Linked DNA regions of Homo sapiens: region 2 is linked to region 1. Evidence: fine-mapped expression QTL. A gene starts in region 1. The other region holds a variant in brackets. All regions are shown on one strand. Distances are from middle to middle.

Evidence for each region. PIP is the estimated chance that this variant, and not a neighbour inherited with it, causes the effect. A credible set is the group of variants that fine-mapping cannot tell apart.
Region 2: its variant is the best candidate, but not a certain one, in a credible set for the expression of SLF1 in monocytes (Fairfax 2014, PIP 0.71).

The regions. Positions count from the first base shown.
Region 1 is chr5:94,611,877-94,627,496 of GRCh38, forward strand. SLF1 (SMC5/6 complex localization factor 1) reads left to right here and starts at 6,793. Exons shown (of 21, transcript NM_032290.4): 1 at 6,793-6,889. KIAA0825 reads right to left here and starts at 6,728. Exons shown (of 21, transcript NM_001145678.3): 1 at 6,624-6,728. RefSeq lists enhancers at 5,742-6,606, 6,345-6,524, 6,835-7,014, 7,405-7,514.
Region 2 is chr5:94,743,048-94,758,667 of GRCh38, forward strand. The region is part of intron 19 of MCTP1 (multiple C2 and transmembrane domain containing 1); the gene reads right to left. Among named protein-coding and RNA genes, the nearest start is that of SLF1, 130 kb to the left of the region's middle. The variant T/A (reference allele first, on the strand shown) is at 7,616.

The DNA.
Region 1 (15,620 bases):
TCAAGGTTGCAGTGAGCTGTGATGTACCACTGTATTCCAGGCTGGGTGACAGAGTGAGACTCTGTCTCAGAAACAAACAAACAAACAAAAAAAGATTTACACTATATTTATAGGCTACCTGAATTTAGAAATTTAGACAATAGTGTGTTTAACCACATGATGCCAAAAATCAGTTGTTTAGCTAATGTTTGCATTTCTAAACTGTTACTGGGAACAGATGTTTTGATTCCTAACTGTTCTGGCTAACAAAACCGTATTATAAAATATAAGAAGATAGTGTAAGAACATATGACCCAAATGTTAGTATCAATGTCTGGCAGTAGGGATTATACTTTTCTTGAGGGCAGGAGGGGGTGGCACAGGGAGTAAAATTCAAGATTTGAAATTCAAATGTATTTGTAAGTTTTAGCAGATGACAACTGTTGATCATTTTTACTAATACCTAACATTGAATACCGTGGCAACATGGGATTCCTCTAATACATGACTTTGGCTTTTGGACTCTGCACTGGCCTAATTGAAGCTTTCTTAGAAGAGTGTAGCACTTTGATATTCTTACTCAACTCTTCTTTCTTCCTTCCTTCTCTTCTTTTTAGGCTGTCAGACGTGCATTGAGGCCTGAAGGCATTTCTTTCCTACTCTCACTCTCCTTCATTCTTCACAAGCAGTCTCCCCAATAAACATCTTGTACATCTTACCTCCTCTTGGCATCTGCTTTTTGGAGAATTTGAACAAATAAAGTGCCTTACTACACCAGGCACCATATTAAACTCTATACATGCATTATTTTATTTAATCTTCACAAAAGGCCTATGAAGACATCATCATTCCCATTTTACAAATAATGAAACAGTGGAAAAGTAACTTTCACACTGTCACACAACTGTGACTGTCACACAACTGTGACAGAGTTGGGATTCAAATCCAAGTCTGTTTGACTTCATAGTTAGAGCCACAGACCCTAATTTAAAACAGTGAGTTTATTAAAAACAAAACAAAACTAGAGACCTTAATAATTTTTTTCTGATGCTTGTGTACCTACACACAGTATTACATTTAATCCTAGTAAAGTTGATAGTATTACTTTACAGATGAAGAAATTGTGGCTCAGGGAATTTAAGTAACTTCTTCAAGGCTATCATTATATGTTCATGAGTTTAAGCTCAACCCCAGGTCCTCTCTGAATTCAGTTGTTTACATTATACTGCATTGCCTAATTAGTCAAAATGACATTGTCTCGTTTTGAACTTTTATAGTTGTTAAAACTTTTTATATGGGATGTATGTATTTCAAGGGATGCACTAAAGTTTGACCTTGTCCTCTGTATTTTTTTTGAGAGAGAATCCTTCACTCTGTCACCCAGGTTGGAGTGCGGTGACATGATCTCGGTTCACTGCAACATCCACCACCCGGGGTTCAAGTGATTCTCTTGCCTTAGACTCCAGGAGTAGCTGGGATTACATGTGCCCACGACCACACCCAGCTAATTTTTGTATTTTTTTGGTAGAGATGGGGTTTTACCATGTAGGTCAGGCTGGTCTCGGACTCCTTGTCTCAAGAGATCCGCCCGCATTGGCCTCCCAAAGTGCTGGGATTACAGGCATGAGTCACTGCGCCGGCCAATCTTGTCTTCTGTATTTTAACAAAGTCTGCATTTGGCTTTAGTGTTGGCTTTTAGAAAGTAAATAGTCAAAAAGGCCAGGTGCAGTACCTGTCATAAAAGTACTCAATCTAGGGAGGTCAGTAGGGGCTGAATCCAACCCATACTTTGTTGGCCCAGCCATGTGTCCCTGCAGGGCTGTTGCCATAGAGAAAAAGATGCCTTTTTCCAATCCTTACAAAAGTAGCATCAGTTACACAGTGTATATCCAAGAGTTATGGATCCTCCAGAAGGGGGTGCCCTTTTCTAATCATACAAGGTGCTATAAGGGCTAGCTGTGAGTCAGGAGGACAACGAGGTGAGAGGGAGGCTAACGCCTCATTATATACCCTTTCATACCTTATGAATTTTGCACCAAGTTTCAATTAAAAATTTGATTAATATGGCAATACATGTAAGTATTATATGTGTTCATATCCTGTGGGTGACCATTTCTCCTTCTACAAATTGTAATAAGAAAATAGATACGAATATGTCTAAATATTTTACTATAAAAACCTTTATTGTACTATTACTTAACAGAAAGAAGTCAGTTTAAAAGTTATAACATATTCATAAAATTGAATAGCATACAGGCCCTAAGTATTATTTTATAGAAGCAAATTTATTGACATGGAAAAATTCATGGTATAGCACATTGAAAAAAGCAGGTCACAAGACAATATAGACAGTATTATTTCATTTTTATTTTAAAAGCACATATATGCAAATCTGTAATACAGAGAAAAATCATAAGTTATTTCTGAGTGGTGGGGTCATGGGCCACTCTTCCTTTCTCTTTCCTTTTTGGCATATTTGTACACTCTAATGTTTCTGTAACAAATGGGCGTTTTTCCATAACAAAGAAAACAAATGCCAACTCCATCCTCCACCCCATCCTAGTTATACACACAGATTATTGCTTATCGTTAAAAGCCTAACATCTCTAACTTGCCCACAGTTATCTACAGCTTGTCCTAAACTCAGCTTTTTACCTCAGCTTTATTACCAGCCTTCATCCATCTTACATAGCCAAAGTGACCTAGGTACTATTTCTGTTTTCTGACACCTTTGCATCTTCCAGTAGAACACTTGTCCCTCTTGTTCCCCTGCCAAAATCCTTTCCATCCTATATGGCACAAACTCAATATTACCTTTTTTATGAGGTCTTTCCTCATCTGCCCTCCTGGAAAAAAAAAAATCTCTTTTCTTTGCATTCCCATGTTTTGTGTTCAATGATGTATGTAAATTGCCCTACATATAATTATTTGTTTATATAACTTTCTCTCTCCTAGTAGACTGTAAGTGAAAATATTCTTCACCTTTGTCTAATTTATAAAGCATTTTTCATATCCACTAATCTTTTATCCTTGCAAGACTGAGCAAGAAAAAGAATCAATATTTATTTATCAGCAATTGTGTATCAGACAACACGTTTGAGGCTTTATAAGTCAACCCACTTAACGCTCACAGCAATCCTATGGATCCATTTTACATATGAAAACATAAGCTCACAAAGGTTCAGTGACTTATTAGTGTCATAGCTGGTAAAAAAAAAAAAAAAAGCATGGCTGTGATTTTTTTAACTCTATTCTTCCTATTGCAAAAACATGATTGTGTGTCCACCAATGTGGAAGACGTGAACACATATAAAAGCTTACATAAAACACATCAAAATTGATGAGGGTTTTCTGGCACTCCAGAACTGCTATATTCAGATAATACTTAGGAGTCAACTAAAGTCAGAGGATTTTTGAGGTAGGAGGGACCTTACAGATAATATAATCCATCAAACTCCTATATGTTATAGATGAGAAACATGATACCCAGAGCTTTTGCACACATTTAGCAGCTGAACCAGGATTAAAAATTCAACTGGAGGCTAGCAAAGTGGTTAAGATTATCGCTTTTGGGATCAGAGCCCTTCATTCAAATCATAGCTGTGTTTAATGACTATGCGTAACCTACGACAATTTACAAAGCTTATCTTTGCCTCAGTTTTAGCATCTGTAAAAGGAGGATAATAATACTTACCCACTGTGCTGTAAGGAGTAATTTAACACTGAATAGCAGAGAATAAACACAGAAAAATATTAGATATTCTCTCATCTCCTGTCTCACAGTCCAGTCTTCTTTGCAGGACAGCACATTGCCTTTTATGAATGAGTGTGGAGTGGACACTGTATTTCAGGGGCAAGGTGAGTAAAAATAAATATTTATTTATGTGGTAAATCCTTTAAAAAATGTACAAATACTTCTCGGTGGATAAATAACATTTTAAAAAGGAATCATTCATTCAATAAATGCTTATTTTTTATTTTTTAGAGACAGGGTCTTACTCTGTTGTGCAGGCTAGAGTGCAGTAGTATGATCATAGTTCACTGTGACCTATGTTTATTTATTAAAGGAAGTATAGAACATAGTAAAAAGAGCCAAAATTTAGAGGATCTGGATTCAAATCCTCTTGCCTTAGCCTCCCAAAGTATTGGGGTTACAGTCATGAGTCATGGTTCCTGACTTATTTATTGAGCTTCTATTACACGCCAGGCACAGTGCTAGATGCTGGGTTTGAGATGACGAACAAAACAGACATAATCCCAAACTTCATAAGCACTGAAATTTGATAGCAAAATATCCCTGAGATCTGCCTACGGGATCTGCCTACAAGTCAATGCAATGTAATCAAATACACATTAGTATTTCAGGCTAGCTATACCTATACAGTTGTAAAACAGGATATTCTTTAGAATTAACTTCTATGTCATTTCTAGTATTGGTCATTTCAACTAAATTTTTGTAAATTCTCTGAAAATTAGGCTATTTCTGTTTCTCTATATAGAATTGGGTATTGGGATGGGCAGGTTTAATAAAGCATATTCCTGAAACTATGTGATAATCCCCATCTGTTTGAGGGTTACGTGAGTGGAACAGCACAGTTTTGCTAATAATTCCTTATAAATCATTACAAAGTTGAATTTTATGAATTTGTGCTCATTTACTCATTCTTTCTCCCTACACACACACACACACATGCACACACAAATATACATGTATACAAATGTGTGTGTGAAAAGCTGTCTAAAGAGATAGTTAGCTGATACTCTGGACTCAGTCACCAATATGCTTGCTGATGGTCTCCAGATCTTCTGCATTTGCCCCAAGTGTTATGCTAATGTACAGTATAGGCATTTGTTTGAATTAGGATAATAAAACTGGCCAAGGATAAAGGCACTAAAGAAACTGCATTATTTAGATGTCAAAATTACCTTATGGTGATGAACACATCCCTTAAGTCCCTTTTATCCTCAAGTTTTGCTATCCACTTGATTTCTAAATGTGACATACTATCTATCCATTTTTACCTGGAGTGAAAATAATGATACTGTTATGTTTACTTATAAAGGTATAGAGCACAGTAAAAAGAGCCAAAATTTAGAGTCAGGTAGACTGGATTCAAATTTTAATTGTGCCATTTAATTGTATAATTTATGGAAAATCACAACCTCTTTGGGTCTCAGTATAAAATGTTTTGCAAAATAGAAATAATACAATTTTTGTGATTTTCTTTTTTTATTAAACATTAAATAAAATAATAAATGTAAAGTGCCTGGCAGACAGTATCTACTTGGGGTAAGTATTAATGATTGGCTACATTCAAGAGCAATTCAAAGAGAGAAATCACTGCCTCTAAAAACTAGTTGCTGTACAGATATAATACATAATATCCCTGAAGTAATTTATAATACTTTCAACTGGAGAAATAAAGAAAAAATACAAGATTCAACAAAATGTCAAGATTGGGATTAATGGGGCGATTATAAGTTTGTTGAATTATTAACCAACAAGGCCAGAAAATCAATGTGCTGTCCTAAATATGGTTTGTTGCATTACTCTCAAAAGGTTAAGAAGACACTGGCCTGGTGTTAACAGGGGCCTTGAATTGAACATATTGCATTTTTCTTTATCGGTATGCTCCGATAAAGAAAATGTTTTTATGGGTATGAGGAGCATACCCATAAAAAAAATGCAATAGTACCTACAACTCTTTCGGGAACTGACTGTTTTGAAAAAATAACAGTCAGCTGCCTTTTACGGGGGTTGGTGGGGAGGTAATTATCTAAATATAAGGTGGCAAGTGAAAACTAGTTACCTAAGAAATTGCATTACTTAAGAGAAGTCGCCAAGGTTCACTACATCACATCTTTCAAATCTTAAATGAGCACCTTTCCTCACATTATCCCTTTGTCGGAAGCAATTTCTCTTTACAACTATTCTGGCTACCTCAGACCTCCATCCAAAATTCTCCTGAATCCTTCATTATCGACAAAGCCTGGAGCAGAACGCAAGCATTCCTTTCTGAAAGCACACATACTTACTGATCACTGCTTTCCAAAAATGCATCTAATGCCCAAGCATGAAATTACAAGCTTGTTCTCTTATGTCTCAGCCATGAAAACAAAGACCGTTCTTCTCATCCAATTCAAATGGCGGGAGGAACCTTCAATTAATTCTAAATCAGGAAGGAACCTCCCCATCTCACTTCCTAAATGTTTGTAAAAGATGTCTTCTTCAGCCAACCTCCTGCCTTCCAGGCACGGCACCCCAGAACTACGGAAACAGTACTCAGGAATCAAGAGTGGCCAAACGCTGCCAATGGGAGATAGGAAACTCGTTGATCATTGGTAGAGAAACTCGGCACAACGCCGAGTCACGGTACACGGTGTCTTCGGCCTCGCCCAGGGACACTTGGTGACCCGAGGTCGAGTTCCAAGTCGGAGACAGATTTTGCGAGTGGATAAGACGGTAAGCCGGGATCCCAGGGCCTTCTCCAGCTGCACTGGGTGTCAAGCGCCACGGGGTTTGATGGGGACTCCTTCTGGTTCCACCCTCGCCCACTCACTTCTCGGGCTGGCCATAATGCTGCACAGAGCCCCGGCCAGCCATTAATATCAGGCGCAGGAGAAAACCCAGTAAAATCACTTACCAGTCTTCCACCTCCGGTGCTGATCTAGCAAGAGCCTGACCCGCTGGCCAGACTCAAGCTCTGCACCAGGTATTACCACCCTGGCGACGGCTCCGGAGCGTCACTGACAACCACCCGGAAATGGTACTATCGCTTCCGGGGCTGCCTAGCGCGCGGCGGGAAATTGTTTCCCAGAGCCCGGATTCGTGAAGCAGTTGAGTGCTGCAGCGGCAGTCGTCGCCCCTGCCGCCGCTGCCACCGAAGGAAGCATCCCAGACACCGGGAAGGTAAAGGGGCTCAGCTAGGAAGACACAGTGTATTCTGTCTCTGTGGGGATGTTTCTTCGCCGGGCGGTACCTCCGAAGTTTCTGCCTCCCGGCTGTGAGGCTAGGAAGGAAGCGGCTGGGGTGAGCGGCAGCGGTGTCTGGCTCTCGCGCTTTCTCCAGCTGCAGTTCGTTCCAGCTCTCCCGACTTCGCGCTCGGCGCCGGAGTTGGTGGGCTGCAGCTGCAGACCCCGCGACGCTTCGCCCGTGCCGCTGCGGGGACTGCCACCGAGCGCCCCTCTGCAGTACTGGGCTGAGCCACTTCCCCCGCTTCTGCTTGCGCAGCTCTGCCGCTCGGCCCGCCGCCTGGAAGGCGCTAGGCCCCCCGCGTCTCTCGTTTCCATAGAACCCATGGGGACGCCTCATCCTGATACCAGAATTTTGGCTGCTTTCCATAACTTAGCGTCTGCGAAGGTGGCTGGGATACCCCAGGCCCACTTTCCTGTGACGAAGAAAATTGTGTCATTCTTTCCTCTCTAGTAGAATTTTTTTTTTTTAAACTGCTAAAACGGCAGTGATCCTATCTCTGACTGCTATAGGCCTTTAAACACAAACATACACACATACACTTTTCGCTGAAGGGAGGGTCTGTGTTCCTGGGGTTTATATTTCAGCTGCCTGAAGGCTGGAAACAAGACTGAGTGGCTATTTTAAGATTTCTTCCACTTCCAAAGCCTCAGATTAAATATTGACAAAAAAAAAATTGGTCCGTCTCGGGTACTTCATATCATTATTTGACTCAGGAGTTAGATGGAGCTTGATTTTGGAGGCGCCAGCCTCTTTTTTGACGAATGACTTTATTAAAAAATTTTGTTGTTGTTGTTGAAATATTGGGAATGAACATTTGAACTGAATTTACAATGTATGTGTGACAGACAATGCACCTTGTGGACTTTTTGGTTTATGTTATTCCGTTGTGCCTCAATTCTTGGAAATACCTGTGGATGTGCAAGATGTTCTCATTATTGGAAAGTTTGATTACGTATATTGCAGGTGTTCAATACCTAAGTTGCTAGTATGAGGTGAATTTATATTAAAGAGTATATTTCTTTATTTTCTTTTCTTACCTTTCCTTCCTTCCTTTGCTTTCTTTCTTTCTTTGACAGAGCCTTGCTCTGTTGCCCAGGCTGGAGTGCAGTGCCTATCGGCTCACTGCAACCTCCGGCTCCCAGGTTCAAGCAATTCTCCTATCTCAGCCTCCCGAGTAGCTGGGATTACAGGTGCGCGACACCACGCCCGACTAATGTTTTGTATTTTTAATAGAGACAGGGTTTCACCATGCTGTCCAGGCTGGTCTCGAACTCCTGATCTCAAGTGTTCCGCTCGCCTCGGCCTCCCAAAGTGCTGGGATTACAGGCGTGAGCCACCGGGTAACTCTTGAGTATTCTTAATTTAAAGGAACTAGGATGTTCAAATACTTGAATGTTTAAGTCAATTTTATTGTAAAGACAGCGAACCTTCAGTACTGCAAATAAACCCCTATTCTGTTTTCTAAATCCAGATTTTATTATGCGTTATTAAGTAAAATTGAATTATATAACCTAACATTTTCTTGCTTCCCTAAAGCATAAAGCGTGGATCACGTGAAAGTCATTGAAAAGATGATCAAATGTGGTTACTTTTCATAATCAAAATTCAGAACTGAAGATTTCGTAATAAGCATCCACATTTTCCACTGATGTTCAAAAACATTGCGTTTTGGGAAACCAATAGTATAGCTTTTATTTATTAGTACTTTCCTTATTATATGTATCTTGATTATATTACCCTAAAGTAGGGTTTTCACCATTTAAATAAAACTTTTTTAGAAAGTAAAATAAAAAATTCTGTGTTGGCTTTGAATAATAAACCCTAAACAAAACGAATTCTCTCAAGAATGTAACTAAAATGAGACATCATCTGTTACTCTTGTAGTTGACTCTTTGAATATACTAATAGAAAATATATCTGTATAATGTACTATGTACTGTTTTTCACCTTATAAGGGCATGTTACTGCTTAAAAGTAAAATAACCCTGGAACTTTTAAGTTCACTTAATTCATACTTTCTATCAAAATTACTTTGAAATTTAAAATACACTGTCTGGTTATTTTTGAGGAGGAAGAAAGACTTTCTCATATGAATCACTCTAATGATTGATACCAAATCACTTTTGAGAGGAAAATAATGAAAACTTTGTTTCTCATTAGACAAAAAGAGCACTCTTTAGATTGTTTCTAGAAATGCTTTGAAATTTTAGGCACTGTTATTTTACTGAAAATAATTTATAATTATGTTTAAATTTTTTCAGTGATATTGCTGTTCTAAATGTCTTCCCACCCTTGTACTGTTCTTTCACTTAATGTATCTTTCTTTTGTGTTAGCTGAAAGTAGATTGCTTTATGAAATTATAATGTGGTTAAAAGTATTAGACTAAGTTCTGCAATTTAATTCACCTTGGTATTGTAGAAAAGGCATACAGTTTTTGCAGAAAGACTTATATGTGCATCTTGTTTTTACCATTTACTAGCTGTGTACCCTTGAAGTAGTTTCTTAATCACTCCGATTTCCCAGTATCCTCATCTGCACAAGAAAAATAAATAGCACTTATGTTGTGAAGAAGGAAATGAGCTAACATATATACTGTGGTATAAACCACAGTAGGTCCTCCATAAAAATTAAATCCTGCTTGTTCAACCTTAGACGTATGGTCTTCCTTCTAAGTAAACCAAATTTCCTAGGATACCAAAGCACATTTGACTTCTATGGCTAACCGATATCTACTGTCCACCTATTCTTTTTCTGAACCTTTCCTCTCTTGACCAACTTGCTTCCTTAAGGACTCCTTCATCCCGAAATTAACATCTGCCCAGCCTGTGCCTTGTACAGTACTGGATAGATTGGACATCTCCGTATGTCCTCCTAAGCTTCTCATTTTTTTCTCACCATATTCACTTTGGGGCTTGTTCTGTTTCTTCCTTCTAGCGCTAAATTTGTCATCAGAGGGACTAATTACTGCTTCTTTCCCAAATAATGCTATGGAAGTAAGAACAGCCCTCAAGTCTCATCACTGGATGCTTCTGTCAAATAATTAATATTTATACACACACACACACACACACACATACACACGTGCGTGTGCATCTCTCCTATCTTTGAAGGATGGGGCAGGAAATAGACACTGTGTCTTTAAAAAAAAAAGTCTGAAGGCCAGCTGAATGATATTAAACCAAGGGCCTAATTTGGCTCCTAGGCCTAAAGGGGCCAGAATTTCTAAACGCCACTTGTAGTTAAACGTCAAACAGTATTTTATACACACAGTATAAGTACTGTGACATGTGTCTACCTTTTGCAATATTGGTTCAAACAGAGATCCAACACTTGGACCCTTTTCAGTTTTAACAGTTATTTGTTTACTTTCCCAGTTAAATGTTTTGAATAAGAGAAATGAAAATTTTTCAGACTGTTTAATTCAGAGCAGAAATCTTGACTGCATTCAGTGCTTGGTATATGCTTTTCAGATGAGGGGAGTTTCAAATAATTTTCCTTAGTTTGCTGTAAAAGTAGGTTTAAAATCAAAAGAATTCACCAAAATAACAAACACTGAGAAACCACTAGTTTTCATCATGACCTTAAAACCATGAAGAGTATTAAGTGGCATGGAAAAATGATCACAATATAACATTACATAAAAATGAAGATATGAAACAATGTAATATCCAAATTTTGTTATATATATTTTTTACACTCAGATAAAACCTAAAAGTCAACATCCCTCCCCAGTGTTAACAATGGTATTACAGGCTGAAGGGATTAGAGATGATTTTAATCTTTCTATATACTTTGTAATATTTTTCAAATTTTCTATAATAAGTGCATGTTAAAATTGAAAGACAAGTCTGTAAAGGTTATTTTGGGGGGAAAACTTTAGTTCTTAAATATAAATATATAAATCAAAGTTTTTTTATTAAGTCTTAAATATTTATTTTAGCTAATGATACCATACAATTTATTTCTAAGATTACTTCTCTTTTATGGGTAGGGCTGGTTATAAAAGAAACCAGCCCTATATAATGTAGAGTAGGGAAAAGTTTATCCTTATTTTCCTTACAAAACCCCATTTATGCATCCCTGTCTCTCATTTTTGTAGCACCTTCCGCTTTTTCCCAAGGGTTGTACCCTGCTCTTTCATCTTGCCTCTCAAACCAGACTTTTGTATTCATATCTGTATTCCTGTCTTTCCTTGTCTCTGAGCTCAATTTTCAACATGTTCTTCAAACATGTTCTAGCTATGTGTTACATTATAAAGAATTCAAAGAACCTAAAAAGCTAGTTTATAATAAATAGTGTTCTTAATTAAGATGAAGAGTTCTATAAGTTTTCTTTGCATTTTGGACTGGCACCAACTACAAAGGAATTTCAGGCATCAAGAATAGGCCCATGTGGGAGATATTTTGGGAAACTCCATACCACAGAGACAGTTGCTTGCTATGCATAAAGGCCAACTCTGTTTATAGTCATTGTCTCCTTAGTTGTATTTTATTGTTCAAGGTAAGTAACTAATTTTTGTTAATTATAGATAAGATTTTAATAATTACTACAAAAGGACATTTTCTCATAACCAAGAATGTCATATAATTTTAATTTTTTTGACAGTAAAAATAAAACTTAACTGTCAGAAGTCATGCTCTCTTTTTTGCTTTTTTTTTCCCTCCTTTTTTTTGGTGTTAAGATAGTATCTTCTGTATGAATGCTCCAAGGAACACCCCCTATTAGTTCTAGAAAGATCTATAATTTTTCTAAAAATAACCACTGGTACAATTATATTATGGTATATTTACTTTCCTTCTTGTGCTGCAAGACTTCTAGAAGTTAGCTCTTGATCCTCCCTACCTCAGACATATCACTTACACTAAACTTGACTGTACTTTAAAGGATTTTTAATTGTCTGGGTTATTGATATATGTTAAACCAATTATAGTGCTCTTTTTGGCCTCATTAACATATCAGGTTTATTGTATTCTTAATCCTGCAGGGTCAGAAAGAACCATCAAACCATGAATTTTATAAATAAATCAATCAGTATATCTATACATGTTTATATCTATTCCTACATATATAGTTTTCCTGTGTAACTGCATGAATTAGATCCTGTAATACAGGTCATTCACTTGTCATATCATGTGCTGTAAAAAAGCATTGCTAAATGTATTATAAACTGTTGTTTCAAGTAGATAATTTTATTCTAGAAAACTGTTACAAAACTGTGCTAGTTATTTTGGGCCGTCACTGGGATTCCTGATTCTGTTAAAGTTTAGCTAGTAGCTCAGTTTTTCTGATAAATTTGTGACTAGAATGTCCTGTATTCTGATTTGTCTTTAAACATATCCATATTTTATGGATAATGTTTGAATCAGGACATTCTGTTTTTTCACCTTTGTTTCCTACTTCCCTTTCCTCCGCATGTTTAACTTCAGTTTCATATTTAATCATTTTCAAAGGAAATAAATTGCTTTAAAAGGCTTTCCTGATTTCTGCTATTATGCAGTTAGTCCTATTTTCATTTTACTATGGGCTCTTGCTTTGACAGAAAATGCTGTTAAATATACAAAGTGGGTCATTTCCATCATATTTATTTTATTATAAAGACCATATGGTTTAAGATGAAAACTGCTTTACACACTAACTCCAGTAAATCCAAATAATTTAATAATTTATACATGAAACCAAAATACATTAAAATGTTACCTTATTAATAATCAAATTGTAAAATAGCTATTAACATGATCTGGAAACAGCAACATAGTATATGTTTATTTCTGTATAACTTGTTTAATTCTGAGGAAGCAGAATAATAAAATTTAAAGGACAAGCTTTAAATGAAACTTTTGGGTAACAGTGTTATAACAATTTTTTTATTATTTTTTGTATATTCCGATTATTTAACATTAGTTTTTATACGTCAATTTTTAGAATAGGCAAGATTTTAGACTTTTTAAAACCACCCAGACTTCTTTGGCAATATTCCTGAAATAGCCATTAAATAGACCTTGAAACTCTAAAATACATTAAAAATATACAAGTAGTAGGAAAAGCATATGTGTTTAAAACTCTTGTATTCCTCGGCTGGGTGGGTGGCTCATGCCTGTAATCCCAGCGCTTTGGGAGGCCGAGGCAGGCGGATCACAAGGTCAGGAGATCGAGACCATCCTAGATAACACAGTGAAACCCCATTTCTACTAAAAAGACAAAAAATAAAAAAATTAGCCAGGCTGGTGGTGGGTGCCTGTAGTCCCAGCTACTCAGGAGGCTGAGGCAGGAGAATGGCGTGAACCCGGGAGGCGGAGCTTGCAGTGAGCTGAGATTGTGCCACTGTACTCCAGCCTGGGCGACAGAGCGAGACTCCGTCTCAAAAAAAAAAAAAAAAATATTAAACAATAAAAAACTCTTGTATTCTACTGATAACAGTGGTTTTTGATAAAACCAATTAGATAAAAACAAGTATTGATTGAATACCAAGATGATATTCACAGATATATTGGATTTCACTTGTCCAGCATTTCTAAAAAGACCTATCATTTTCTTTTTATTTTTTAATTTTATTTATTTATTTATTTTTTGAGACAGAGTCTCGCTCTGTCACCCAGGCTGGAGTGCAATGGTGTGGTCTCGGCTCACTGCAACCTCCGCCTCCTGGGTTCAAGCAATTCTTCTGCCTCAGCCTCCCGAGTAGCTGAGATTACAGGCACCTGCCACCACACCTGGCTAATTTTTGTATTTTAGTAGAGATGGGGTTTCACCATGTTGGCCAGGCTGGTCTCGAACTCCTGACCTCAGGTGATCCACCCACCTTGGCTTACCAAAGTGCTGGGATTACAGGCGTGAGCCACCATGCCCGGCCAAGACCTATCATTTTCTAAAGGAAATTTGCTTAAAGGATTTAAAGAAATAATTCCCTAGAAATAATGAAAGCATTTCTCCCTAGTTGTGGACATATGTTTTATAATCCAAATGTGGCTTTTTTGTGTGTGTTCATATGTGTTCTGCATCAGACTAAATCATTATTATTTCTAACAACAGCATATTCTTCATAGTTTTTATGTATTGCTGGTCCATATTGTTAATGGTTATTAACATTCAAGAGCTACATTAATTAACCCATGTAAATGGTTTTAAAAAATTGTATGATTAGGTCGGGCGCGGTGGCTCACGCTTGTAATCCCAGCACTTGGGAGGCCGAGGCAGGCAGATCACAAGGTCAGGAGATCGAGACCGTCCTGGCTAACACGGTGAAACCCTGTCTCTACTAAAAATACAAAAAAAAAGCCAGGCCTGGTGGCGGGCGCCTGTAGTCCCAGCTACTCAGGAGGCTGAGGCCGGAGAATGGCGTGAACCCAGGAGGCGGAACTTGCACTGAGCCGAGATCACGCCATTGCACTCCAGCCTGGGCGACAGAGTGAGACTCCATCTCAAAAAAAAAAAAAAAAAAGTAATTGGATGATTAATACAGTAAAGGGTTCCTTATACAAGAAGCTTGATTTATTTACTGATGATAGTGTTTCGTGTATATGATTAATTTTTCATAAGAGACCAATCCCTATTATGTGCACTTAAAAATTTTATACTGACTAGACCAAATCCCTGTAACTTTTTTTAAAAAGCATTTATTTCATTGGAGAGCCTTATCTTTAAGGCACTTTCTTATGTTCTGTATCTGAGTTTTAGAGGGTTAAAATACATTGTACCTCTTTGCCCCTTTTGCAGCCAGTTGAGAAATGCAAAAATCAGATAAATTGAGGTTGAAATACCAGCTTTTTTATTGAGTAAACATTGTTTTGAAGGAGATGATGGTTTTTGTTTTGGTTTGTTTTTTCTGCATCCTTCTGCAAGAAGGAGATAGTTTTGATATGGAACCATAGTGTGCTTCTTAGTACATAACCTCCGAATTGACTTACCCACACAGGCAGTGCAGGACTACTACTGGCAGCTCCTTAGGATGTGTCAGAAAGCATTGATATGGACCTTCTTTGCAAATATGCAGATACACTGAGCAAAGCACATCCATTTAGTTGTCTCAAGGAGCTTCTCCAACGAAATGGGGAGTGATGAAGGGTAGAGAAAAACCAAGAGTGCAGTTACCCTAGCTGAACTTCTCCTCTTCAAAACTATAAGCAAGGAAATAAAAGTTCACTTCTGAGTAATGCTTTAGATTATATTGAGACTTTCTTTCAATTTTTACTCTTAAATGAATCTCAACCTTTAAATAAATGTATATATATTACATTTACATGTCTTTAAAAATAGACTCTCTGTGAAGAACATTTCTCACTTCACCAGTTGCGTGCTATTAGTCCTGGGCTCAAATCGTCACAGTTTTTAAAGTTTACTTGTAATTGTATTGAAAGAAGTCATTGTTTCTTTAATTATTGAAAACAGCTACTGTTGTTATTCTAGCTATGACATTAGTTAAATATTAATAACCCACAGTTATGGTGACAAAATTGTTAGAAAAATGAAAAATTGCCCTAATTTCTCTAGTCCCTGCTTTGCTTGTCTGTGGAAAGATTGAGATTTTTCTCTAATACGCTGTCTAGTTCTCCAGTTCAACTTCATGTAAACAAACAGAATTGTATTCTGATGAGAAATTCTGTGAGTTATGTACTCCCTAAACACAAAGTACTTTTTGTGAACTACATTAAAATATGGATTAAGGTC
Region 2 (15,620 bases), 130 kb after region 1:
AAAATAAAATGTGATTTCCTAATCTACCAAAACAGAGCAATCAAGTACGAACATCTAATAAGAATCTAATGAAAACACTGATGTAACCCAATGTAAAAAAAAAAAAAAAAAAATCTGGGGGATTATTCACTGGCTTCTCACTCCTATTTTTCTATAAATGGGACGAAGCAAGAATTGGCTATACTAAAATTAACCTAAAAGCTGTATTTGGAGCAGTATTAAATGTTGAACTTATTAGCAAATCTGCAGGCTTATATTTCAATTCAATAAAAAAAAAAAAAGAGAGTCTATGATATGCCAAGCACTGACTCCATGCTAGAGAGAGGAAAAACACAGCAGAGAAGACAGAAATAAAAAAGGAAGCTTGCAGCCTCACGAAGGTGAGATAAGAGAGAAAGTGAAAAATGCTTTATGACAGGTGCCAACAAGGAGCTATCCGACACAAACGGAAACGCCTGCACAGGCCAGGCTGGGTGAGAGCATGGGGCCCATGGAGAGGGCATCCCAGTCATCATGGCCATGTTGGAATCCAGGCCCAATGTTGCCAGAACTTTCCGTCTTTCAAGAGAAGCTCAAAATCCACATTTTTTTTTTTTTTTTTTTTTTTTGAGATGGAGTCTCCCTCTGTCGCCCAGGCTCGAGTGCAGTGGCGCGATCTCGGCTCACTGCAAGCTCCGCCTTCCGGGTTCACGCCATTCTCCTGCCTCAGCCTCCCGAGTAGCTGGGACTACAGGCACCTGCCACCACACCCGGCTAATTTTTTGTATATTTTTAGTAGAGACGGGGTTTCACCATGTTAGCCAGGATGGTCTCGATCTTCTGACCTTGTGATCTGTCCACCTCGGTCTCCCAAAGTGCTAGGATTACAGGTGTGAGCCACTGTGCCCGGCCAAAATCCACATTTTTCCATGAGAGCTCTTGATTTTTCTTGTTCTTTTTCTGAGTCAGGATGTGGCTCCATCACCCAAGGTGGAGTGCAGTGGCACCATCACAGCTCACTGCAACCTCTGCTTCCCGGGCTCAAGTGATCCTCCCACCTCAGCTTCCGGAGTAGCTGGAACTACAGATGCACGCCACCACACCCAGCTAATGTTATTGTTTGTTTGTTTGTTTGTTTTGCCATGTTGCCCAGGCTGGTCTCTAACTCCTGGGCTGATCCGAAGTGATCCACCCACCTTGGCCTCCCAAAGTGCTCGGATTATAGGCGTGAGCCGTTGAGCTCAGCTTCTCCTGATTTTTGAAGACTGTTTTAAAATCCTGTCCACAGCTGAATTCAGCCCCTTAGCTGCCAGTTAGCAGCCTCTGTACTTCTAAAATGCACAGGGAGCAAGGAGCAAGAAGCATGGATAACGGACTAATTAGATGGACAGGGGATTTAGCACTGGATTCAAATCCTGCCCTGCTGGCGTTATGCAAACTTGGTCAAGTTCTGAAAATGGATCTCAGTTTTGGTTTCACTAACATTTTTTTTTTTGAGACAGAGTCTTGCTCTGTCACCCAGGCTGGAGTGCAGTGGTGCCATCTCAGCTCACTGCAACCTCTGTCTCCCAGGTTCAAGGGATTCTCACGCCTCAGCCTTCTGAGTAGCTGGGATTACAGGCGTGTGCCACCACACTGGGCTAATTTTTGTATTTTGTATTTTTAGTAGAGATGGGGCTTCTCCATGTTGGTCAGGCTGATCTCGAACTCCCAACCTCAGGTGATCCGCCCGTCTCGGCCTCCAACGTGCTGGGATTACAGGTGTGAGCCACCGCGCCCAGCCACCAATAGGTAGTTCTTGACTGGATTACATCCCGAGATTTGATACCAAGACTAAAACTGTGTTCAGCTCATTTCCCAAAATACAGTAAGGGGCTTTAACATTGGATTCAAATCCTGCCCTGCCTGTGCTGTGCAAACTTGGACAAGTCCAAGGGCACAGCCTTAACACAGCATTTCTTGTCAGATAACCATTGCTTTTAAGATGGTTGAAACAACAAGAGAAGGAAGACTCCAGAGTAGTCCTATGACATGCTCCCACCCACAGAGAGTAAGAATGTTTCCCAGCCACTTCTCATGACCATAGTTTTCTTACTGGATACGCCTGAGTGCAGCAAGGTCTAAGGGGAAGTTTAGGGCTTCAGGTTTGAGGACTTGCTTAATAATGCCTTTCTGTCTATAACCAGTATGCCCACAAGTGAACAAACCTTTTCCCAAAATGGGTCAATTATAATGTTCTGGGTGGAGATTCCATAGCTGCTCCACAGCTCGGAGAGTGTGCTCTTTGGTGCAAGATGTGAGGAGGGATAAAGGAGCTGCACTGGCTTTCCTGTTCTCTTACAGAGTGTCCACTTGTTTCCATTTCTTCTGGGAGAATGGGGAGGAGGCATGTGTAATACATATATTTGACTTCTTTTAGCCTCATTTTCACTTTGTCTCTTTTTGTCTCTTATTCCCATTTTGCAGATGAGCTGGTAGGGGTAGAGGGCAGTTAGGCGATATGAAAGAAAGGTGGAGAGGAAAGAGTCATTTTACTGTTCTCCATTTGAGTATCTTCAAAATCATCAGGTATTCTTGCAGAGAAAAATTAAGGGAGGCATCATTATATTTATTTCTAGTGCCTAACACTGAGCCTGACACATAGGTGCTTAATAGAAACTTGAAGAAAAATGTGTTGAAGAAATAAGTACTCATTGAAGAAAAACATATTTACAGAAGAGAAGCAGCACAAAGTGCTCGGCTGCAAGCAACAGAATATTCTAGTAGTAGATTAGGTAGTAGAGTTAATTTTCCTCATGCAATAGGAAGTTCAGAAGTCAGGTTATTGATATTGTACCAGATGTTCAAAGTGATCATTTGGGCCCTAAGAACTTTCTGTCTTTCCATTTCTTCATCCTTATGTTTATTGCCTCATGGTGTTAATATGGCTGCCCCAGCTGTAAGCATTGCATTCACATTCAAAGGTAGATGAGAGGGGGAAGGATGGAGTCAGCAATATCTGTCCTATGTTATCAAGAAAGTAAAAAACTTTCCCAGAAACCCCCGGAACACATCCTTTTCCAGCTCTTTGGCCAGAACTATATTAAAGAGTCATTCATAGATACAATGAAACCTTAGAAAACTGAGGATTTAGGCAGAATCTTTGTCATTATGTACAAAGTCCGTCTTCCATTAGCAAGGGAAAATGGGGAAATAAACACTGGGTAGACAATATCCGCCACACTTGACTGGAGCCCTTTCTGCCTCCTACTCCTTTCTGAATACTCAAATGACTCACAGCCCTCTATTAATTCTTTTATGTCATTTATTTCCCCTCCCAGATTGAAGGCGTTACTCATGTTTGACTCATTTTCTCCTATCTTTTACACGGTAAACCCCTAATAAGTGCTAATATTATGAATGTTTTGAGATATATGTAAAATGATGCTCTTTAAGTAGTTACAGAAAGAATAAAAACCATGACTTCATTTGTATATTTGTGCATTAGCTACTACTCCATTTTAAATACAGTAGGTAAAGTAGGCTTAAGTGAAATTTTACAAAGGGGAATAAGAACAAATATAAACAACAAATATAAGACATTTTTATAATGTAATAGTGCAGACAAAACTGAAATTCATCTCTTTAAAATGAACTTAATTTCCTGTTTCTTTGTCTTCTCATGCATTCCATGTCATAAAGATAGGTAAATTATTCTAGAAATACTAATATTTTTCAGGTTCAGAAAACTTCAGTGGATCTCAATGCACATAAGAAACTGTCTACATTCCTTGCTCCAGTGCTCAAAACTCCACAACCTGGTCCCAACCAACCATTCTTACCCTGTCACTCACAACTCTTGCGTCAGTATATTTTGCTGTGGCTAAATTCTTCTACAAACTGCCCTCTCAAGGCCTCTTGGGAATTCCACTTCCCCTTGACCTTGAATACCTTTAAGTTCCTCTTTTGGCTTGTTTGAATCTGACTTAGCCTTCAAAGTCTAGCTCAAGTATCAGGTTGATAATTAGATAATGTAGGTTTCCAGCTTTTTTTTTAGGCTGGAGATACAGTTTGCCTTTATCCATATCTTCTGCCTGTACTGGATTTTGTTATTTCAGTTGTCCAGGAGTTCTGTGTGTGAACTGCCATCTTTTCTGTTCCATGTAATATCGTAGCATAGCACGACAGCAGCAAGTATTTTTTCTGTAATGGAAAACTGATTGCTACAATTCTGACAATGGTCATGCTCACCATTTTAACAGTTATATAATTATATGTTACCTATCATTTCCTATGTAGAAACTGTATTAAGAACCATCATTTAATCCTCATAATCTTATGAGGCAAGTATTATTTTTGTTCCCATTTTGCAGATGAGGAGACAGAGGAGCTATCTCTTGGATAGCTTCCAATTCAGAAGTAATTTTTTTTTCTGTAAAGGGCTAAATAGTAAATATTTTAGGTGTTCCAGGCCACATAATCTGTGTTGCCGCTATTCACCCCTTCATTGAAAGCATGAAAGCAGCCGTAGATAGTAAGAAAACAAATGGGTGTAGTTGTATGCCAATAAAACTTTATTTACAGTTGGCTGAATTTGGCCTGTGGACTGTAGTTTACTGACTTCTGTTCTAGCCCAAATAATCCTTTTCATATATAAAGCTAAGAGAGGTAAAGTCCAGATTGCAACAGAGGCGGATCTAGAATCGAGGTCTTCTGATTGGTGGGTTAGTGGTCTTTAACTATTATACTAACTGGATGGGGGTAATTATTCTGTAATAAATTGAGCTTCTGAAATTATAAGGAGGCCAGGCATGGTGGCTCACGCCTGTAAACCCAGCACCTTGGGAGGCCAAGACAGGTGGATCATCTGAGGTCAGGAGTTTGAGACCAGTCTGGCCAATGTGGTGAAATCCCGTCTCTACTAAAAGTATAAAAATTGCTCGGCGTAGTGGCGCGCGCCTGTAATCCCAGGTACTTGGGAGGCTGAGGCAAAATAATTGCTTGAACCCAGGAGTCAGAGGTTGCAGCGAGCTGAGATTGTGCCATTGCACTCCAGACTGGGTGACAAGAGTGCAACTCTGTCTCAAGAAAGAAACCATAAGGAAGTTTTGATACTATTGACAAATTATACTGTTTGACCCAGATGATTAGGTTTCTGTAATTTGATGTGGGTTTTATTCCATCTTCTGTGTCTTCCAAAGGTATGTGGACTTTTAAACTCAGTTTCTTCATCTTTTATAGGAAAGCATTTTCCAGACTAGATAAACACATGCCAGTTGCATGTACAGTTAGGACTCAGAGCTTGCTAAAGAGCACAGGGTGACGACTGTGGAACTACTGAAACATTGTCGAGACAGCAGTCCGTTAAGGCTTCTCAGAGTAGTTCTGAGTACATGGCTCCCTGCCAACTTTCTAACCTGGCCCCCTAGTTTACCAGGAAACATTTTGACATGGTTAAATAGGTACATACATCCTTTGTGGCTACAGGACAAAACCCATGATTGCCTGATCTCTTTAGTCCCATGCTCTGAAAAATTTAGATTCAAATCTTTGACTGGAAATAAAATTTCTGTGGGGCAAGTTTTTATTCTCTGATCTTTGTTCTTTCTATTAATAGACTTGGAATGTAATGGAAAATATAGTTAACATTGCCTTGCACATTTACTTTTTGAGCATAGTTATCAGCACTCTAAGTTTCTCGATTGTCTCAGGACACTGATGATACTAATAGATTCCAAAAAGACTTTCTTGAGCCAGAAGCACTGTAGCACTACATTTCCAGCTCTCTGTTGAGTCTTCAAACTAAGTAGAAAAAGAGAAGCAAATTGAACCTCATATATTTTACTATCCAAGAGGATATTACCTTGACTGGACACGGTGGACTGACTACACAGACTGGCCACCGTCTGCAATAGCGCTCAATGCAATTAGAAGCCTGGGAGATGAGCTGACACTAGAAGGTCAAGAAATACAGTTTTGTTTTGTTTTTTGATGCTTCTGCTGTAATTGTGGCCCCAGAGCATTCTTGTCCTTGACTTATGTGATGATCTGAAGTTATGTTTTGATTCTGAGCATCTATGTCTTATTAGGTTATATGCATCATATTTAAATAACTAGACAAACCTTGAAAGTTCAGAATCCTCACCAGCCTGTAAAATTTTTGCTAGGCCAATCTATCATCAAGAAGACTACAGAAAAAAGTATTTCCTTTGCACAGACAGATGTACCCTTTGCTGTGGATGACTCAGCAAAAAACACCTGCAATAGTGTCTTATTAGGTGGTATCCCCTGGCACTTAAGATATATGCAACCCTGTGCCCTGGAACCTACTTTTGAAGAATGAAAGAAATATTTAAAACATCTTATCGGCCAGCTGTGGTGGCTCACGTCTGTAATCCCAGCACTTTGGGGGGCCAAGGTAGACAGATCACCTGAGGTCAGTAGTTCAAAACCAGCCTGGCCAACATGGCGAAACCCTGTCTCTACTAAAAATACAAAAATTAGCCGGGCATGCTGGCATGTGCCTGTAATCCCAGCTGCTCAGGAGGCTGAGGCAGGAGAATCACTTGAACCTGGGAAGTGGAGGTTGCAGTAAGCTGACATCGTGCCACTGCACTCCAGCCTGGGTGACAGAGCAAGACTTCATCTCAAAAAAAAAAAAAAAAAAAAAAAAAAAAAAAATATCAAGGCAGTGGAAAATGAGCTACTTTTCCCAAATTTCAGAATCTATAGTTATTGGTATTAAGTGAATAATGAAATTCAGTGATTCTCCTGCTAGAGAACATCTCTAAAGCCTTGGGCCAAGAGCTATAAATACATTTTATCAATGCTGTAAGGTAAGCACTGTTACTATATCCACTCCACACATGGAAGCAATGAGGCTACAGAGAGGTTAAGCAGTTTACCCAAGATCATTTAGGTACCAAATGAAGCTGGGATCTAAACTAAAAGAAGTCTGACTCCAGAGCCCGAAAAACTATTACTTCAGTCTGTACAATCACTTGGTAAAATCTACGTCCTTTAGTAGAAAACTTGCTGAATGAGAAAGAGAGAGAAGAACTTGCTGAATGAGAAAAAGACAGAAAATAGCATATTCCAGTCCCTTGTTCCCTTTCCCTAGATCAGTGCTGACATATTACAGAGTACATCCCACCTTATGCTATTGTTTATGCCTAGGCAGTCGCAGAGGGAGCTACCCGCCACAAGAACCCGTGATCATATCTCATCATTGCTGTTCCCCTAGTTACCAAAGTCTGCACTTTGCTTTTGTCATGTTATTGACGTACAGGGGGAAGCATTATTTTCTCAATGGTTCAAATTACATATCTGGGGGGCAAATGAAACTTGGTTTTTATTCTCATTCTCTCCTTTCATTATTTTAGAATCATAAACCTACTAGACAATTGTATAATCATTAAGGTCATATACAAATATTCTGGCCATCTCTTTTTGGGCTTGTAGTAGGACTGCACTTCCTTATCTGCTAAAAGTGACTTGCTCTGACCAATGAAAGGCAAACAGAAATGGTCTATGTCTCTTCTAGGAGGAAGCTTTAAGAGCCAGTGCTTCTCTTTCCAACATGGTGACTGGCAGTATTTCAAACAGCAAAACATTTGAGCTTAGGGCTTAACGTGAGGGTGACAACAAAGATGTGGCA[T/A]GAAGTCCCCTCTGCCCATCCTGGATCGACAGATAGTATAAGCAAGAAAAAAGCATTGTGGTCTTAAGCCCCCAAGACTTGCAGTTATTACTGCAGCAAAACCTAGTCATCTTGACTGGTCTATTCTTACAGAAAATACTGATGCCTAATTCAAAGCAGCAACACAGAGAATATGGCAAAAGGGGATTAAGCATCTGGTGATTGTGAAGGCCATCGATGCTGCCAGCTAGCAGGAAATATCCAAGTCTTTCCAAAAGGACTGGGAGTAGCATACAAAAAGGAAATGTCCCCGTCATCCAGAACCGAAACCTGGGCAGGATTCCTTTGGAAAGAGAATTGTGGACTTTCTAATCCCTGCAACTGACCCAACAGTCCCCATATCTCTCCTATATGCCCTTAAACAAGAACAAGCACACCTTGAATGCAAGGTGGAGGTTTTAACTAAATACTGGCCGGGCTGAAGTAATCACTCAGAAGCATAATATAACTTTCCTGACAGAGTGATAAGTCAGTAGAGCGACCAAGGGCCTTTCTCTCCTTTTCTCCTTTAGTAATAGAAAAAATGATGCTATGAGTTAGGGGTTTAAACAGAAAGAAACTGAAATCCATGACAGTGATGACTTAATAATATTGCAAATTATAGTTTTTAGTTCAGGTAATTTAGCATACCAAATCACAGTTTAATTTCCTTCTACAGAGCCCAGGCATATGAGATAGTGTATGAGAGAAGGGGCAAGGTGGGGTGGAGACAGGGGGTGAGGATGAGCATGAAGAAAAAAAATTCTAAGACTTCTCAAAGGCAGGTGACCTTGAAAGCCTAATAAAAGTGACCTGGAGAATGTAAATGGCAGTTTATTAATATGTGCGAGGGCTATAGCCCTGACCTCCGGGAAGCTGAGTCCTTGCTTCCTTTTGTTCAAGTGCTTGCTTCTCCTGCCTGGTGGAATGTGAGGATCAAGTGCCCAGAAGGAATGCATAAAGCGTACAGAGCCCTGACAGCTGTGAAAGAATGACTTTGAGAGTGTCAGCAAAGCAGAGCCGTTGTTGAATGGCATGTGTCCTTGATTGCGCACAATGCTGCATGAAGGAACAGAGAAGGGGGAGCTGAATCACTTAATGACTTGTCTTTTGTTCTAGGATCAACGTTCCAGATGAAATAAGCCACGATTCTCGATCCATACTTACCAGTCGCCTTACAAAAAACCAAACACCGCATGTTCTCACTCATAGATGGGAATTGAACAATGAGAACACATGGACACAGGAAGGGGAACATCACACTCCGGGGACTGTTGTGGGGTGCAGGGAGGGGGGAGGGTTAGCATTGGGAGATATACCTAATGCTAAATGACGAGTTAATGGGTGCAGCACACCAGCATGGCACATGTATACATATGTAACTAACCTGCACATTGTGCACATGTACCCTAAAACTTAAATAATAAAATATATATATATATATATATATATATATATATATATATTCAAAATAGCTTCCTCAGGTAGGTGAATTATCTCACCCGGCTGAAACAGTGTCTGCGTGTTTGGCAGGAGAGTCAGGGAAGAGCGCTTGTAACTGGATTTTATCCAAAGTGGTTACCTGAGTTCTAACAATGACAAAGTGGTGAGGATGAGCCCTCTGAGCTAGCTTGGGAAATACTAGTTGTTCAACCCTTTCAGTATTACTCAGCCAAACTGCAGCTGATCAGCTTGACCAAATGTTCGCCAGAGTATCCTGAAATAAGTATGCCCCTTGTACATACCTAAGTTCAGAGGTTAAGGGTCAAATAGGTAGGCTGAGTTTGCAAGTGCTTGAAGCTAAAATTCTCAAACTCAGGTGCCTAAGGACCACCCAGTTAAAACAATTCCTAGGTTCCACCTTATTGAATCAGAATCTCTTGAAGTGGGGCTAAAGAATTTGTGTTTTAACTTGGTTCCTAGGTTATTTTGAAAACTAGGATGTTTTTTTAAAAAAATCTACTCAAACTTACCTGAGTATGAAAAAAGAAAATATAACCCTTCATAGACATAAAAAGCACATAGCCATAAAAAGCACAAACACAAAAACATCCAAGGAAACAAAATTCAGTCCAAAGACTTCATGTAAGTAGAGATCACATAGTACTTATCATCCAAACAGGGACACCTCTGAAAGTGAAAGCTATTGATTATAGCAGGATAACAGGTGTAAACAGGGACTGTACTCTGTAACTGGGATTTATGGTCATCTGAATTCTAAGACTAATCTGGGCAGGAAAATTGTTTGGGATTTAGGCCACTAACACAACAGAAAGCCCTCATCCAAGTTTTGAAGTTTAGCAAGAGCTGCAAATATTTTGATTAGGAGGGCTATATAAACCATAAACCCAGAGGATCTTGTTCAGGGGTTCACTGTGGCTTGAAGTAGAGCAGGATGAACTCTCAGGTCCTAATTACCCTGACTGAGAAGAGACCAGTAGAAACTTTGACCCCACAGTGGAGGAGTGCATATGGCAGTGACATTTATCCACAGCAACTGCAGAAGTCAGTCTTATGAAATGTAAAGGATTGGACCTCAGAGATGGAGAGAGAAGAAACAAACCAGGCATTATTCTACTCCCTACACTTATCTTGCAATTTCTAGGAAACACCTTTTCTCCTAAGTTTTTAGTTCTCTAGTCATGCAGTTTGCACAAACCCCCTAAAAATTATTGCCATATAGCTTCCTATTGCCTTCCGCCTCTGGGGAATACTGCAGTATTCTTATAGGGAAAAGGAAGAATGGGTTGCGCATTTTCATTATTCATTGGATGCAAAAAATTCATCGTGTAAAGGTTGTTTTAGAAGTGCAAAACAGCTAAATGAGAAATCATGTTATTGCTAGGAAATTTCATTTATTTCCTTTGTTGTAATAATGATTGTGGTGTGTAGTTGCTTCTGTAATAATTACAGTGATGCTATTGCACATTTACTTTCAGGTATCATTTTCATTTTAAAATTAATCTCAAAATATAGTGTTCATTCAATTATGCCTCTCTTAGCAAACAAACTCTACTCTGAGCTCTAAACTACCCAGTATTGAAACTACCTTTTTAAAATGGGAGGACCAATGAACATGCATATGCAGAAGGGCCTGGATCTTCACAAAGTAACTTCTCTTCTAGAAATTATACTTCAGGTAGACTATGCCTCTTCTGTGTTCAGTTGCCAGTGCATGGGGTGGAAGGAAAGCGTAATTGGTGCACTGGCCCCCAGGAGAAAAGCAGTATCTGAGGAAACATTGAAATAATTACAAAATATGTGTTTAAAAGAGGCATGGTGATAGTTACAGGAGAAGGGAAAGAGAAGGAAAGGAAGAGAGAAATCGCTCTTAGATGATTATAAAATATATCTTATTTACCTGAGAGAGTTAAAGTGTATTGGCTATGCTTTTTAAAAACGGGTCTTAATTACCCTTGAGGCCAGAATTCCATATGAGATAAATATGTTTTTAGATAGTTTTCTAAAATATGTATAATTTACTCAAGGAAAAAAGGACTGTGTCCTCTGGAGCCAATCCAGCCTCACAGGTAAATACAAATTTAAGTAGATTCCTAAGAAGCACATTATGAACAGTGGCTGATGGAGTGGAATGTCTGTGAAGAAGCTGGGAAGGTCCGTCAGTTAAGTACATAATAAAAATGTATTGGAAAAATACATCATTTCCTCAGTGGACTATAATTGGCTATGCATAGTAAAAAGTCTTATTTTCAAAAATGTATTCTGCATCCACAGAGTTTTAAATCTCAATAACCACGTTATTTTTAAAAGTCAGAATGCTAAGCAATATTAGTGAGAGTGGCAGAAGAACCACATGGTAGATGTCATTCTGCAATTTACAACTCTTTGACATCTTCTTTTTCTTCTTCTTTTAAAGCAGACTTCATCCAAAGCCATAGGTAAAAAGTTAAAGAAGATGGAGGATCAAAATTCAGCTTTCTTTACTAAACAGTCCGATCAGTCTTTTCAGAAGTGCCAAAGTACGTTTAACTTTAAAAGCATATCCTTTTTTTATTATCCAGGCAGAAATTTCTGGTATAAACAAACAAGACAGACAGATGTAAAGGTCCACAGTAACACAATTACCTAGGCCTGCCATTTACACCTTTCCCCATCCCACTGATTTTGACCTTTCCCTTGCCTACCACCTCACCGTTCTCCCAGCCCATCCATTCGGTTCTGGCTTCACTTGTCTCCTTCCCTTGCAACCTATAGGGATGTTGTTGGACCTGTCTTTATGTTCTTTCTGTATTATCCTGTTTTTATACAACTCATTCTGGGCTGCCAAGCTGTGGACTGCCCGTTTTGGCGACCACACATTCCTGGTGTGTCATGCAGCCCCAGGGAGGCCTTGACAGTGACTTGGGCATTTGTCCATTTGGCTCATGCTGACTGGCTGTCACAGTCCTCCCAGTCCTCCCACTTTCTCCAGAGCCTCCCATCCTAACATTCACACTCATAGCAGGTGACCATTTCTTTGTTTTTCCTGAGAGAGCTGAGGCCATGTGTGCTTCTTCAACACCTGTGCTCCTCACCGGGAGGATCCCCAGGGAGCTTCTTCCCTGACCCCTTCCTTCTGCCACTGCCATCACTTCTGAGACCCTGATCCTCCCCTCTTCTAGCTCTGGATTCCTCCTTCCCCACTGATTCCTTTTAAAGAGTGAGTGACCTCTCTAGTATTAATACTAAAATGAGCCCCAAGGTCCTTCCAACTCCTTAATTCCCACTTTCCTCTCTTTCCCCGCTTCAGAATCAAACCAGCTCTCAAACCAGAGTTCACACCAGCTGCCTCTCATTTGCCTTCTGCGTTCTGCTCTCACCACACTAGGGAAACTCCGAGGACCACGACCACAACTAATCCAATCACCAGCGTTCATGACTTTTTCTTTAGTGCTCATCTTCCATGACCATTTGACATACTTCATTCTAGCGATATATTTCTTAAAACATGTGGTTTCCATGCTTGGGACCCTTCGGATTCCCCTCCTATCACTCTGAAGACTCCTTTTCAGTATATGTTCTGTTTTTCATCCTCCCGTTGCCCTTTAAATAGATGCATTCTCCACAGAACTGTCCTCGGCCCTCTTCCTCTCATACTCAACTTCCTCTGCCTCTGTAATAACTTTGTATCTCTAATGGGTAATTCTCAAATTTAAAAGTCTCTGCTATAACCTCTTCTTTGAACTCTAGATTTCTACTTCTACCATCTGCTAGAATACCTTATTCGATGTCCTGGTGACATTTCAAACTCGACATGTTAGAAACAGAAGTAATTTTTTTCCCTCTAAAATCTATTCTTACTCAGACCTTCTGTTCCATTTAACAACTTGACAATTTTCCTGGGCACCCATGGCCGACAGTGATGCTGCTAATGATTATAACAATAACAATATTATTACTCCTATTAGACCTAGGAAATTCCGACAACAGCCAGACCTTGTTCTAAGCTTCACTAAATATACAGTCATTTAATCCCTACAACAACCCTATGAGGTTGGAACAATTATTAACCCCACTTTGCAGATGTGGTAACTGAGGGATAGAGGTAAAATTTCTTGCCCAGCATCACATAGCAGCCTGGTTCCAGAATCCATACTCTTAACCACTATGCTCTACTGCCTCAAGAAGTCTTCAGTGATTGTTGGCAGCAATTGTAAGATGTGTTATAGCTGACAGTAGCTAGAAGGTGGCTAATTTGAGGTCTGTGGGATTTGACATTAGGTGGTGGTTATGGGAATGAAAAGGAGAGTGACTGACAGGAGACGGTGGAGCTCTATGAAGATAGGAACTGCACTCAACGAGGTGTCATCTATAGCATTATGGGCACTGGCTGTGTCTCAGAGGCTGGTGAATAGGCGATAAGAATGAATTATACACATAGAAAGCCGAAACTCCCTTTTTCTACCATTCTAGCAATAGTAGATGCAATTCCGGTTAATTACGGGAGGTATAAATATCAGAGGGGAGATGACAAAGATGTTGGCAAAATGAGATCCTTTGACAGCCACTTTTCTTTTGCTAAAGAATACCCAGCACACAACTATGGCTACTTTGAGTGATTATGGGACTCTGATGCCTGAATTGCTATATTTTATTCATATGTATCCTTCTATTCTTTCAATATTCAATCAAATGTTTACTTTTTGTATAGGATTGTGCATGTTATGTATTAAAGTACTCAGTTCTGATTACTAGAATTTATGACTTTTTTTTTGTGGAAATAAGGTATGTGAAAGCTAAATAAGATCATGAATAAATAATACCTCAAGGTCATAGGGCAATATGGCATGCTGTTTTAAAGTATGGGCTTTGGAGTCTATATAGAACTCGCTTCTAATTTCGGCCTTTGTTTGTGACTTTGGACAAGTTGCTTTGTCCTCATCTGTGAAATGTGAATGACAGAACCTACCTAATAGAGTTGTCATGAAGAAGAAATGAGATAACGCACATCAAGTCCTCAGCATAGTGCTGAGCAAATAATTCCATGCACATGGGCGTACACAAACACATACAACTGAGTATTACTCTGTGTTCTGAAGGGGACTTCCTATTGGCTGAAGCGTTTATTGGGTGGCAGGAGGCAGATTTCAGCTGAGTCTTAAAAAATGGATGGGTCTTAGATAAACGGAAAGAACATTTCATATAGATACCAAGGCAGACCTCAACAGAGGCTAAGAGGAAGGTGCAAAGTAAGAAATATCACAACAGCAAAGTCAATAGAATTTTGATTACAAATTACAGACAGAATCATCAAAGATGATTTGAGTTTTTATGTCTTCATGATTAAAATAATTGTGCTACTGGTAGAAATCCATTAGCCATGAAAGGAAGTTAGTTTTAGAGGAAGAAGACAGGTTTAGAGCGAAATATATAGAATCTGAGGTTATGATGGGACAATTTTCAATGTCTAAGAGGATGGAAAGAGACAACAGACTTGAGACGAAAGGCAGAAATGGAGATTTCTAGCTCCTTGAGGAGTTAGGTCTCATTTCTCTTTAAATCCCTCAGAACAGCTAGCATAGTGCTTTGAACATTCCACATGCACACTGCTTGTTGCATGGATGGATGAATAAGTGAATAAAAGTAAAGATTCTGGAGTTCTCTCCACGGAGGAGATAGTTAGTCTCCAAGGAAGAACAAAACAGAGAGGTACCCAAACATCAGAGACACAAGAAAACCAAAGTGTTAGAGTAAAGCAACAACAACATGAGTGCACAGGGAAACAGAAGGGGATATCAAATGGTGGTCAAGGGAGTCTTGGGAAACAGGCACTGCCAAGGAGGAGGATCAAGTGAAGTTATTAATGTCTTCAGGAAACAAGTTTAGTAAGGTGTTATAGATGGAGGCCTCAAAAGAAAAAAATGAGATCCAACAAAAGTGGGGAGTAAATGGAGGCAACAGATGTATGTCTGAGATTAATAGCAACTGAAGGAAAAGAAAACTCACTACACTCTTTTCTAAAAATGTGTCACTATATGATACACAGACTAGACATTTGTCATAGGTACTCAAATATTAAGTGCACATATGCATGAATATATGAACAAATGGATGAATTGAATAAATAATTCATATTTGATATGAGAAAAGTACTATATCTTGATTTCTTGTTTCTTAATTAGAAAATCCCTCGCTGGATGTGGTGGCACATGCCTATAGTCCTAGCTACTTGGAAGGATCACTTAAACCCAAGAGTTCAAGGCTGCAGTGAGCTATGATTACACCACTGCACTCCAGCCTGGGGGACAGAGCGAGACCCCATCTCTTAAAAAGGAGAGAGAGAAAAAATAAAAATAAAGAAAATTCCACCTTCATTTCTGTGCTGTGGGTATGTAAATAGATGCAAAAGCACCTGTAGGTAACGAAGTCAGTCAACTCTTACAAGACAAAAACTGATTTCTTTTCACCATATTATTCTTTTACCTGTTTTTATGGAGGCTATACAACTATGATTTAGATTGTGGGAAGGTGAATATTTATGAATAAA